Linked DNA regions of Homo sapiens. The protein of the gene in region 1 interacts with the protein of each later gene in a pairwise test. Each region holds a gene or a part of one and is shown in the gene's direction. Other genes may lie near its edges. The genes, in order: CELF4 and LYST.

What was found.
Region 2: the proteins of CELF4 (region 1) and LYST interact in a two-hybrid assay, tested with the Homo sapiens proteins (one study listed by BioGRID).

The regions. Positions count from the first base shown.
Region 1 is NC_000018.10:37,242,338-37,247,952, reverse strand, and holds the end of CELF4 (CUGBP Elav-like family member 4), read left to right. Parts: intron 1-682; coding exon of another isoform or gene 683-736; exon of another isoform or gene 737-2,755; coding exon of another isoform or gene 2,756-2,782; 3' UTR 2,783-4,913; downstream 4,914-5,615. UniProt on the Homo sapiens protein: RNA-binding protein implicated in the regulation of pre-mRNA alternative splicing. Mediates exon inclusion and/or exclusion in pre-mRNA that are subject to tissue-specific and developmentally regulated alternative splicing.
Region 2 is NC_000001.11:235,863,787-235,871,793, reverse strand, and holds the start of LYST (lysosomal-trafficking regulator), read left to right. Parts: upstream 1-4,887; 5' UTR 4,888-4,951; exon of another isoform or gene 4,952-6,738; intron 6,739-8,007. UniProt on the Homo sapiens protein: Adapter protein that regulates and/or fission of intracellular vesicles such as lysosomes. Might regulate trafficking of effectors involved in exocytosis.

The DNA.
Region 1 (5,615 bases):
CCCCTGCTGGCCCACAGGCTGTAGTCACAGAAAGCTGAGGAGGGAGGGAGCGCCACCCCTGGGGGAGAGAAAGAATCAAGGGTGATGAAAAGCAGAGCGCCTGCTCCCTGAGATTGCTTGCTGGCCAAGGTGGTTTGAGGGGCTGTTTTATTTTTTTTCTGGCCCCCTTGCCAAACCGCCCATGCCCCCCTCCCCAACGCATGATGGATGCCCTTAGTGGCCCTGTGTGAGGTTCTGCTTCTGTTCACAGTGTATCATGTGTCTGCATAAACAACCGTGTGTGTGTATGTGTGTATGTGTGTGCGTGCGTGTGTGTGTGCGTGTGTGTGTGTTGATGTGCCCATGTTTGTCTGCTGGCTTCCTCCATCCTTTGAGTTCTTTTCAGTTCTCTTATGATTTGACTGCTGTTCTCTCATCAGAGCTTCTAGATTGATGCTGTGGTCTGGTGCTGTATAAATATATTTTCTTTTTAATTTTGTTTTAACTTCTTCCTTGCCCTCCTTCACCCAAATCCCAGCCCTCCCTGCCCTCCCACACTCCCCAACCCCACCTGCCCTGCCCCACCTCTTCCTTCCCCCACCCACACTCTCTTGTCCTCTCTCTCTCTCTCTCTACATATATAAATATATATATAAATCTTTTCTTCTTTTGTCATTCAATCAAATTCCAACAACCCAACCAGGGCCAGTCAAATCCACCACAGTCTCGCGCTGAGCTAGGAATAAAGTTCACGTAATCACATGAGAGTGGAGAAAAGTCCCCCATCCGTAAGTTCAAATCAACTCAAAGTTCACAGTGTGACATGATGGCGTCATGTAACAAGGCTAAGAATCGGTTGCATGACAATTGCCGTCAAGTTTCGTGGAGGTGCTGTGATTGGAGCGTTTTTCTTGGATGTTGTATCAGTTGATGATTGGCCAGTCATGATCACACGTGCATTTTCTTGACTTTTGTGCTGCCACAATCTTTTTTGCTGTGCTCATTTTCGTTTCGTTCTTGGTGCTTGCAGTGGTTTTACTTTCTGTTGTTTGGTTTTTCTTGTTCAGCGTTTTTTTATGCTTCTCTAGATGTCACATAGAGAAAAAAACAAAACAAAAGAACAAAAAATAGTCAAAATAAAGATGAATTCCTGAATTATCAAACATGGGATCATTTACCTGTGCAAACCATTATTTTTTTCTTAAAAATAAGGAAAACATCTTAAAAATATCTATGCGTGGTTGATTTACTTGCACTTGAAAATATTGTGATTTTATTTTTTTCTAGAAATTTGGGGGCCTTTTTCAATTGACACTTTCCTAGGTCTGGTCTTTTTCCAGTTAGGCTATTTTCAATCTCACTTCAAAGGGAAAAAAAACAAAAACAAAAAAACAAAAACAAAATATCTACAGTAACAGAATGATAAAAAAATTCTAAACCAAAAAACTAGAGTACAAAGCCAGAGGCCTCTGCAAGAGAGCCCGGTAACAATTGTAAGGTTTGTATTGTAACCACTTCTGCTAAATTAAATGTGGGGAGGGGAGGCTGGGGACTGGGGGCTCGGGAGGGTTTTTTTTGGTTGGTTTGGAAGAAACAGTACTAACAAAAGCAAAATGCACCTTTTTGTTTACAACTGAAAAAGGGTCCTTGACAAGTGTTTTTTAATTTTATTATTATTTTATTTGGTGTTGTAATTGTTTAGACTGCTGTGTACGGTTTGCTGTTTGTTGAATCAACAGTGTGAAAAACCTGCCAGCATGGATTGATATACGCATGACGTTGTCCCCTCAAGTGGGGGCTTTGCAGTTCTAACTTTCTTGATGTAACCAGTCACCCCCATGTATAAGTGGAAGCTGCTTGCTAGAATGGAGATGAGTCTCATTTGTTAATTCACAATGATTAAGCATTCGCCTTCTGATTCTAGTCAGATCATGATTTTTTTAAAGCAAAACAAAACACCAAAAAGCCACCATTCAAAACAAAATCAAGCACTGTCTGAGTTAATTTATTTAAGTTTGATAATTAAATCTCTTCTGACCTTTTTTAGGTTTTCCCATCCACTCCCTTGAAGTTCTGAATTCCTCTAAATTCCCTGGCATGTATGAGAAAAGTATTATGTGTGTGTATGTGTGTATATATGCATATACATACACACATATCCATGTATATCCACATATGTGCAGGTGAATATATTCTACACATATATCCAGATATACATATATATACACAGCCTCGCAAATAGTTACTGACCCCGGGAAAGAAGTGGTTGGCTGGAAGCTGGGCAAGGATTCTACAAAATTTGAGTCACGGATGTGTCTTCCTTCTTTCCCTTGAGCTGGGAGGAGTGGGCTGGGCTGCTAGATTTTTCCTATCTTGTTTGCTAGGCTTCTGTATACATATTGTATCTGGGCTAGATCCCTCAGAGACAAGTTTAATTATGAATTCATATCCCGCAGTCCCAAATTCTCCCCTTAGATGTAGCTACCCCCAATCCAGAATGCTAAAGTAACCCAAATCAAGAACCTTCTCCCAACAACGAAACCTCAGCTACAACCATCACCACTAGACCTCCCAGTGGTTTCTACTCTGAATAGAAGAGTATATTTCTTTTTAATGTATCATGATCATGACTAATTCTCATACTGGTCTCTCTTCCTTCCCTCCCACCATCCCCTAGAGCTCCCATCCTAGCCCCTGAGGCAGGTTCCTATTGGTGTTTGGATGCTGTTTGTGTTTTCCCTCTTGGCTTAATCAGCCCTGATTTTCTTCATTTTAGGGCAGGATGCTGAACGGGCTACATTAAAAAACAAACCTCTCTCTATATATATTTATAAATGAGAACTGTTGGATGACACCTTTGACATATCAGCCAATATCAATCAAGCTGAAGACTCCAGACACTGTCTGTGTGACTGTAACATTTCTTCAAGGAAAGTATAGCGTCTATGGAGTTCAGAGGGCACGTGTTTGGGGGAAAATATATATGACATGAAGAAGAAGATGAAGAAAAATGAGAAAAAAACACACAAAAGGCAACTTTAAAACAAAATATCACGAGCAGACGGGGAGGCTGAAGGGCTGGGAGCTGGGAGGAGACGCTGCTTACCGATCCCGGGGCTTTTCCAGCCCACGGGCGCCTGACGCAGGCTGGGGCAAGTGGTGCGTGGGGCCTGGTCCCCAAGGGGCGGCTGAGAGGCCGCCACTGAGCATCTCTATCTGTCATTCCTTTAGCTATTTAGGGACCAAAGGACCAAACTTTTTATTGCAGATGTGTAGCTCTATGTCAAATAGAGGGGGAATGGAGGACCCCCTCCTTCCTGCCTCATGGCTGTTCTTGAAACAGCTTAGAGCGATTCTATGAAAAAATGTAATAAAAAATTAAAAAAAAAACAAAAAACAAAAAAAACAACAAAAAAAGGAAAAATAACGCTTCAATGCTTTTAAAACAGCAAGATAATAGTTCTTTGATACTTTGAGAGGCGCTTTGATGACCCTCATCCAAGTCTATGACACTTTCCTATGGTTTTCTGTATTCTATGTCTGGATGGAGCTGTTAAAAGATGAACAAATTGGTGGATATTTGGGGAAAGCAACACAAATCTTAAAACTCACCCGTGAAGTGTGAGAAAACAAGGAGGGGAACAAATGGGACTTACCAAGCAAGGTCATTGTTGTGAAAAGTCTGTAAATGCTTCTAACTCTTCCCCCTCTTAAAATCATAATAGTTGTACAGAATTTTAAAAAGGAAAAGTTTAAAATACCTATATAATAGAAGAAAAATTAGAGGAAAGCAAAAAATAAAAAAAAAAAATAAAAAAGGAAAAAAAAAACCTATAGAAGTTAGCATTACTGCTAAAATCCCAGATGTTGTAGGACTGTACTTTTGTAGAGTTTAGACAGAGCATCAATCCCTTCTCCCCGCGAGTGCAGTCGGATGCCGTTGTCCCCAAGGGCCAGGCCGAACTCGCCCCACACCTGCGGGCGCCTGGCTGCCGACGCCGGTGGAGGCCACGCCGTCGGTCGGGAACGGTCGCGTCGCCCGGGTCGCCGCCGCCGCCGCCGCCGTCATCCTCGCCTCTCGCTTCCCTCTGGGAGCTGCGCGCGCTTCACTCACCTTCCGCTTCACTCGCCTTCCACGCTTGCTCCAGAGACTTTCCGGGCAAGGGAGAACTGGGAACTTTCATCTTAAAACAACTAGACAACACACACACACACAAAACCTTAAAAAAGAGAGAGAAAAATAAACAATCTTTGAAGAATTTCTGAAACTGTTTACAAGGAATTTTGAAAAACAGGGATGTTTAAATGATGCCGGCTCTGTTTTTCTGTAAATAAATTTGCATATTTTGTAGGACTTTTAATTGTAATGATAGAGAAAAAAACAAGGAAAACTATTTAATGAAAGCACGATATTTATCTTTGGTAAATGACTTTAGAGCAGTTAAAGACATTGCTTAAAAAACTCAGAATCAGAAAAAACACTGAATTATTTAAGAACACATATATTTTAAAGTATAACATATTTATTATAATTTATTTGCACCCTTGGGAAGATTGCTTTGGCATTCTGCCTTGATTCCTTCTCATTGATGTCCAGGTCATCTGGAGGCCGGGGGTTCTCAGACCTACCAGTTTCCCTTTAGAAGAACAAATTTCCAGTTCCTCTAGGGCCTCCTGCCTTTCCTTTCTTTCTGTCAATTTTGTTGTTGTTGTTGTTTTTCATTTTCTTTTTTTCTCTTGACTCCTCCTTTTAGGATGTCCAGATGTAAAAAAAAAAAAAAAAAAAAGAAAAAAAGAAAAAAAAAAGAAAACAGCTGCAGTTCAGTACAACTGCTCTTTTCACACTCAACTCCCTAAAACTCCTTGTAACCTTCTGTAACTATTGGATGACGCTTTCTCCAGCTTAGCCCTAAATAAAGCACAGTTTAAAAAAATATTTCTTCATTGGTCTGTGCCTCTCGGACTCTGGCCAGCTGTGCCTCACAGCCCCAAGGCTTGCCCACTGGAAGTAGCTTTGGTCCTCTTTATGGAATCTGCCACACAGGCCCTCGTTCTGAGCCTCAGCATGTGAGGCTCTTCTGGGAGGTGATGGGAACAATAAAAGGAGGTCCTGTTCCACTCTAGGAAGAATCTCTCTGGACTGGTGTGTGTCTCTGAAAGTCCCCACTGCAAATTCATTCTTCTGGGTTCCTGGCAGAGGTGGCCACAGTGTCCAAGCAGAACAGAAAGGAGGCTACCTAGGCCACCCGACCTGAAGGCCGAGCAAGTGTTGGGTTGGGGGGGGAAGTTATGTGACACCTTAGGGAAGGAGGCAGTGGAGGGAAGAGGCCACAATAAAGGAAGAAGGATGAGGATGCAACTCCAAATTTACCAGCAAGCATCTTGCTCTTGGCCCCACACCTCCCGCTGCTTTGGCAGTTTGCAGGGATGGAGAAAACAGGATTCTGGGCCCTCAGTCAGGGTCCTGGTGGGGGCAAGGATGTAGAAAGAAGAGTAGGGGCCCTCCCCTGGGGCGTTTCCTGGCATGCTGCCTGTCCTACACTTAGATACGAGCTGGAGAGAGGTGTCCAGACCCTGAATGCCAGGGTGGGAGGGAAAAGCATTCCGAAGGAGGAAGAACACCACGCAGGACTTGG
Region 2 (8,007 bases), on another chromosome or scaffold:
CTTGGATCTTGCACAGGAAAGAATTCAGGGCGAGCTGCAGAGTATAGTGAAGTTAAGATAGTTTATTAGAGACTACTCAATTACAGAGTAGGGTGTCCTTAGAAAGCAAAAGGAAGAACTCACTACCTTAAACATAGTGCTTGCTTCTATAGGTTGTTAAGAATAGTGTACTTTATTACAAAGACTTGTGATCAGCTTGTGACATGCTATTAGTATTGTTATTTTCCTATGTTACTATTGATTTCAGCAAGAATTAATGAGTATATTATATGATCTTTAAAGCAAAACCTAGTCTTAAACTAAGAATGCTTTTTGTTCTTAAAGTACTAGGACATTTCCATAAATTCTGGGTCTTTAATTAGTTATTAGCATCATTAACTCATTCCCTCAACCATAAATGTCTTGTGACCAACAGTGCCCAACCCCTCGGGAATGTAACACAGCAGGTTTGCTTTTATCCGGCCTTTATTCAAGATGGAATCGCTCTAGTTAGGACGCCTCTGACAATACTTTTGGGGATTTCAAATGCTATTGGTGATTTAGTAGAGAAAATTACATGAAAGAATCATACTAAAACCAAATCTGATAACTTTTGCAAAATGAAATGGATGTTGGTAACAACTTAATGAAGACATTAATTATGAATTGACCTCTTCAATAAAGTTTCAAGGTGGCTACCAAGACGCACAATTGTAAAAGATGTATATGCATCCTAATAAGGTAAAGCACTTCAAAATTAAAGTGACACTCAAAATTAAATTGATGCAGGTCTTTAGTCAAATGCATAATTTTATTCATCTGTATAATTCTGACCTTCTTACTATTGCTGAAATCGCAGTCTTGTATTCCTCTACCACTTCACAAATCCATTTCTGTTCCCATGCATTGCAGTAGGCATTAAGATTGTCCAGCTCCAAAATTATGGTCAACTTACTGTTTGGATATTTATTTGAATTTTCAACAAAATTTTCTTAATTTAACTATTTATCCAAATATTTACTGAGTGCCTACTAAGTGCCAGGCACTGTTCTGGTCCTTGGGATACATCAGAAATAGAACAAAGATTGTGGCCCTTGTGGAGCCCATAGTCTAAACAGGGGTGACAATGAAAATAAACATAAGAAATAGACAAATTATGTAGTATGTTAGAAGCTGATGGGTGCTATGAAAGAGATGATGTTTAGAGTTACAGGTTACACTGTGATAAAAGAAACACTTCAGCCAAATTAAATTTAAAGTTTAATTGAGCACAAAACAATTCGTGAATCAGGCAGCCTTCTGAGCCAAGGTAGGCTCAGAGACTCCCGCGCAGCCACACGGTGGGAGATTTATGGACAGCAAAAGGAAAGTGACATACAGAAAATGGAAGTGAGGTACAGAAACAACTGGGTTGGTTGCAGCTCAGCGTTTGCTTTATTAGAACACAGTTCAAACAGTTGGCTACATTTGATTGGCCAAAACTCAGGGATTGACACAGGTGTGGGCTATGGCCTGTTTACACCTTCATTTGTTATAGCTCATGATGTACAGAAAAACCTTTAGGCTGAACTTAAAATATGCAAGGAGGCAGCTTTAGGCTAAACTTGATTTAACAACTGTGTCAACTCTCACCAATGCCACCCACCTCCCCACACCCCCCAAGAAGGGACAGAGAACATACATGTTTTTTAATACTATTGTTTTAGGGAACATTTGTGAGATGAGGTCCATTCATGTGTGGGGTCCAGGGCAGAGGCCCCTCTTGCCTAGTTTAAGGGCAGTATTAAGGGTAGACCTCATTGAGAGGTGAAATTTGAGCAAAGACGTGGAGGAGATAAAGGAGTTAACAACTGCAGCCATGTGGAGAAAACAAATTTCAAGCAGAGGGGCCGGCCAGTCAGTGCAAAGCCCTTAAAGCAGGACTGTATCTGGCATGTTTGGTAAACAGTAAAGAAGCAGGTATGTAGGTAGTGATGGGAGAGTAGAAAGAGACGAAGTTTTGAGGAGCCAGATGGTGTTAGAGCTCTGTAGGCCAATTGTAAGGACTTTGGCTTTTATCTGAGAGAAGCGGAGAGCCAATGCAGATTTTTGAGCAGAGATGTGACATGATTTGATTTATATATCCATTTAGTCACAAATAATTTTTAAAGGTGTTTTGGAGAATAATTAAATGTGAAATTATGCACATTTACGTTGACTGTGTTGTTTTAAGCTGGGATGTTACAATCTCATTGAAGATTATAATTCTGGAGTCAAATTAGCTGAAGACTTTCCTGCTTAAAAAGTTTTCCAGCATGTGATACATGCGTAAGTAGAGCTTTTTTAATTATTATTTTTTTTTTTGAGACGGAGTCTCGCTCTTTCACCCGGGCCAGACTGTAGTGGCGCTATCTCAGCTCACTGCAAGCTCCGCCTCCCGGGTTCACGCTATTCTCCTGCCTCAGCCTCTCGATTAGCTGAGACTACAGGCGTCCGCCACCGCGCCCGGCTAATTTTTTGTATTTTTAGTAGAGACGGGGTTTCACCGTGTTAGCCAGGATGGTCTCCATCTCCTGACCTCGTGATCTGCCCGCCTCGGCCTCCCAAAGTGCTGGGATTACAGGCGTGAGCCACTGCGCCCGGCCAAGTAGAGCTTTCTTCTATATACCTATTACTTTACTTTTTTCTTCTTTTTCATGTTCTTCACTACACATTTTGTGTGTGTTCCTAGGAAATCTTTTAAACTAAGTTTTATTTGATATGTATATTTAGTATCGATGTTCTAAGATACTATTGAATAAAATACATACTGCAGTAGCTTAGTTAAAATACTGGAACCGAGGCCAGGAGCGGTGTCTCATGCCTGTAATCCCAGCACTTTGGGAGGTAGAGGTGGGTGGATCACCTGAGGTCAGGAGTTCGAGACCAGCCTGACCAACATGATGAAACTCTGTCTCTACTAAAAATACAAAATTAGCCGGGCATGGTAGCACATTCCTGTAATCCCAGCTACTTGGGAGGCTGAGGCAGGAGAATCACTTGAACCCGGGAGGCGGAGGTTGCAGTGAGCCGAGACTGTGCCACTGCACTCCAGTCAGGGAAAAAGAGTGAAGCTGCATCTTGAAAATAAAATAAAATAAAAAACACTGGTACCGAAAAAAATAATAGTCACAAATGGCATTACTTTGTGCCTTTTACAAACAAATAATACTTTGAGGGCCAATTGTATACCATTATCATCTAAAGTCTGTCTCATTTTCTTTGCTTTAATGAAATCATGATAATCTATTATTTTCTACTCAAGGTTAACAGAAACTGGCTTGTTACTTAATATTTCTTTGACTTCTTTTGTCCATTAAAAAAGGGGGGTGTTTTTAAGATTAGTGGGTGAAAGTTGATGTATAAATAAGAGTAGACACAGCTTTAGGTAAAATGACGAAACAGGTTAAGTTTGGCTTCCTCTTTTTGTTTCAGTTCAGGCCCATGCACCTAGCACAATACTTAGCGCATTGTAGGTGCTCATTATATACTGCTTAAATGAGTGATAAGTTCCCTGAGACATTTATTTCCTGCACTTGTTAGGGTTCAGTGAGCCGATATCCGGCCACTGCCCTCCAGCCTGGGCGACAGAGCGAGAATCTGTCTCAAAAAAAAAAAGATAAAAAATAAAAATAAAAGACTACCTGCCAGAGGAAGTGGGCAATCTTCGCCTAAAGATATGAACTGCTAATGGTTAAACATCAGACGTCAGAGAAGACATATTTTAAAGTGGGGAATTTTCCCCAAGAGCACCCTCTAAACCACATCAGTGGGCAACTTAACGCACTTTGCTTGTCATTGGGTTAGATGGGAGTTTGAGGAATTGGGAGTAACATTTGGTATATAGGCTTGGGACATAATATCCTGAATTATTTCTATTTCATAATTCCTGTGCAAAAAATTATGGGAGTTGTTGATTCTACAGCAATTCCTGTCAATTTGTAGATTATCTGCTTATTAATAGTTTGTATTGTTTGGCAGAACTTGAAAACTACCGAACGATTACAGTTCAGGCTTTTTCCCAGTACCTCTGGCGTTGCTGTCTCAGTGACTAGGAGGTGAGGAGGGTGGCCCTTGAAATGCCAAACTGCCTACCGCAGCAGTCTGCCAGCAGCGTGCTGGGCCCAGAGCCGGGGATGCAGCCAAAACATCCTGGATTTTACCTACAGCTCCCACCCTCTGGAGGGACTGGTCTATTAGGGCATATGACACTGACAGTGCGCACTGTATACAAACCGTGTTTGAACAGGAGTCGGTTGGAAAATACACCACTGCACTGAATTACTTCTGCAGTGGCTTTGCAAAGCTCTTTTTGTTTCTTGAAAGAAGCCGACGGTAACCATTACAATATGGCTTTTTCCAGGTCCCAGAGGAAGGCTAGGGGTGCCTTGTGGGTAACCCTTTCTCCCTCTCCTGACTCCTTCCCGTTATTTCTTCTATCTTCATCCTCTAGACCTACACAATGGGACAGGTTGACAGTCTGTGTTGAATGGAAGAGGCGGACGATGCGCTTGTGTTTGGTGCTTCTCAAACGGTGCTCGCACTCCCCAGGGTCTGACGCAGCCCACTACGCAGAGCCCTGGGAGGAGGTGCGGACCCAGGGTACGACCCCCGACCGCTGAGAAACCCAGACCGGGCCCCGGCTGCAGCCCCGCGGGTCGGCCCGCCCCCCTGCCTTCCCTATTGGCTCGGCAGTTCCACGCGTCACGCCTGCGACGCCGGCGCTGCCCTCCCAGAGGAGGCGGGGCTTACACGCGCGAGGCGGAGCCAAGGGCGCACGCGCAGACGAGCGGGTCTGGGTCCGGACGAGGGGAGGGAGGGGGTGGTGTTCTCGGTTTCCTGGGTTACCTGGGCGGGCGGGGGTGGGGAGTGCGCGGCGGCGGCGGCAGCGGCGTCGGCTCGGGGTTCTCCGGGAGAGGGGGAGTGCGCGGCGGCCGCAGCTGCCACAAACCAGGTAAAGGCGGCCGCCGGGCGCCGACGCTGCCGGCAGAAGGTTCCGGGTCCCGGCCCCTCTGCGTGGCCTGGAGGGGAGGCGGTTTGGGGCTGGTGGCTGTCAGCCTGGGTTGAGGGCCGGGACCGCCGGGCTGAGGGCGCGAGGGCGCGAGGGCACTCGGCCTGACGCGCCAGCTCGGGGCGTCCTCTCTGGCTTCTGGGCTCTGGGACTTCTCGCGGCGCCGGGCCGCCTTTGACAGCCGCCGGGCCGCGGGCGGGAGCTCGGCTGGGCCCCTCTGGGCCATTGCAGCGGCCACTGGGCACTAACTTTATTTCGCAGCGCGCGGGGGGCGAGGTCGAGCAGGCTGACGGCGGTGTGTTGCTACCTTTATTTTATTTTTTGATCCTGTGCCGCTGCACTACTCAGCCCAGCTGGGCCCAAGCTGTCAGGTTGACGATGGGAGTTGACGGTTTCCGCGCCACCACCCAGCCGGTCACTCCCCGCGCTGTTGCCCTGCGGCGCTCGCCCACCTGTCACCTACACCGTGCGCCTCGGTCCGCTCTTTCCTCCTGTCCGTGACACCCTTTGACTGGGCGAGAGCCTCTCTTTCCAGGGGATCCCCTGAGACATCTGCCGTCTGTCTCCGGTATCACTGGAGCCTGACTGAGATGCCCCTTCGCTTCTGATGAGTTAAATAAGCTGGGAAATTACCCGAGAAGACCCCGGTACCACAGTGTAAAGCCCAACGAAGGGGTTGTTTAATGGTCCAGGGGATACAGAGGCTTTAAGAAACGTTTCCTTAACGCTAATTCTTATCTGGTTAAACAAAACATAGCAAAACATCCCCGATCCGCTCGGCAGACCATACACACCCAGCGACGGCACTTGATAGTTAATGGGGTTTGTTTTAAGCAGATAGAAAATTTTAAGGGAGTCGAATCTTGTGTTGAATGCGTTCGTGTTGAATTTGGGCCAGTGTTTCCTTGAAGATCAAATGCAGGTTGCATTTTCCTATTGTTTGTTTAACAGATTGATAGGACAAACTGAATTAGACTTTTCTTCCTGATGATTCTTGGCTCTTCTGCGCTATTATTTTAAAATTCCACGCCTAGATTCATCTATGCTAATAAAGATGTTGACTTTAAGCTTTCAATTTATAGATGTAGTTGATTAATATGGGGTATCTGTTTTAAAGAGCTTTGTTAAGTGGCCAACAACTCTTTTTCTGATAGCTCTTTGCTGTCATCCATATTGTTACTACAAAGATTGGAGAATTTGAAGAAGAGAGGGCATAAGGAAAAATGAATTGCTGTAATTTGCATAAAAATACTTCACAAACTATATAATTATATATATGTATTTAGTAAATATTTATTGAGCACCTACTGCGTGTCAGATACTTTTCTAAGAAAACATAAATATCTGCTCCTTCATGGAGCTTATATTCTAGTGGGGACCTCAGATAATAAACAAATAAAATATGTGCTGTGTCAGATGGTGTTAAGTACTACAGAGAAAAAGCACGGAAGAGGGAGGGCAGGGAAGAGGGAGGGCAGGGAACCGGGAGAGGTTTGCAATTTTAACTAGAGGCAGCCAGGGAAAGCTTCCTAGAAAAGATATCATTTGAGCCAAGACCAGAAGTAAGTGAGGGGTAATCCATGTACCTCTCTGAGGGAAGGATGTGCTAGCAGAGAGGAAGGCAGAAGGGCTTGCAGAAGCCCTGTGTGCTGGGCTTGTTTGAGGACAGCAGAGAGGCTGATTTGGCTGTGGTGGAAAAAGCAAAGAGGAGTAGAAATAAAGTCAAAGAGGTGAGTGTGGTGGGAGATTAGACTGTATAAGGCCTTGTAGGCCCTTTTAAGGACTTGAGTTTCTACTCTCAGTGGAAAGGGGAGTCCACTCTTTGAGTAAAGAACCTTACCTTTTATTTTTAGTTTTGAGTCAGGATCTCACTTTGTCTCCCAGGCTGGAGTGCAGTGGCATGATCACAACCTACTGCAGCCTCGACTTCCCAGGCTCAGGTGATCCTCTCACCTCAGCCTCTGAAGTAATTGGGACTTCAGGCACACATCACCCACCATGCTTGGCTAATTTTTTGTAAAGATGGGGTTTCGCCATTGTTGCCCAGGCTGGTCTCAAACTCCTGGGCTCAAGCGATCCATCCACCTTGGCGTGTCAACATTCTGCGATTGTAGGCGTGAGCCACTGCGCTCGGCCCCAGGCTTGCCTTTTAAAAATGATCATTCTGGGCGCTGGATGGAGAATAGACTTTGTTGTAGGGGAAGGGTTGAGCAGGAGCAGAAGCTGGGATACCAATCCGGAACTGTTGCCCTAATCCAGGCCAGAGATAATGTAGCTTGGACCAGAGTGGAATTGGTGGAGGTGGTGAGAGGTCATTGATTTCAGGATAAATTGAGGGTAGAGATGTAAAAGACACCAAAATTTAGTTCCGAACAAGTAGAAAGATGGGGTACTTGTTTACTGAGATTAGGTTTACGAGAGGAGTAGGTTTGGTGGGGAGAAGGGTGGGAGTTGGTTAGAAGACAATAAAATTAGACATTCACGTTTTTAAAGAAAAAAATATTCAATGATACTTGTTTAAGAATGGTAAGTAAGGCTTTATTCAGAACCATCTCAATAGGTATAGAGACCTCTGCAGTGGGGCCCTGCAGTAGGGGAGGGAGACTGGGCTCAACTCCGAATACAGCATGAGAAAATGGGAATTTATAGCCAAGCAGCAGTGTGGGGATCGTGGATGGAAAATTGCTAAAAGGAAACATCAGGGATAAGGGGGATTCTGGCTAAGCCGACCTAACGGGATTCTTGCTGAAGACAGGCCAGGGCGATCAGACATTACCTGGGGAATGGTGGAGGATGAGGAACCTGATCAGATATTTAGGATGATTAGATATCCAGGATGTTATGCTAAACAGACTTAGCAGGGTTCTTTGCTAATACTGGATTTTACAAGGAAGTGCACAGATGGGCCTCACAGAAAATTCAAAAGCCTGAGTAAGTTTGGCCAAGCAAAGAATTTTTGTCAAAGCTGAGATTATTAGTAGTAAACACAAGTGACTTTG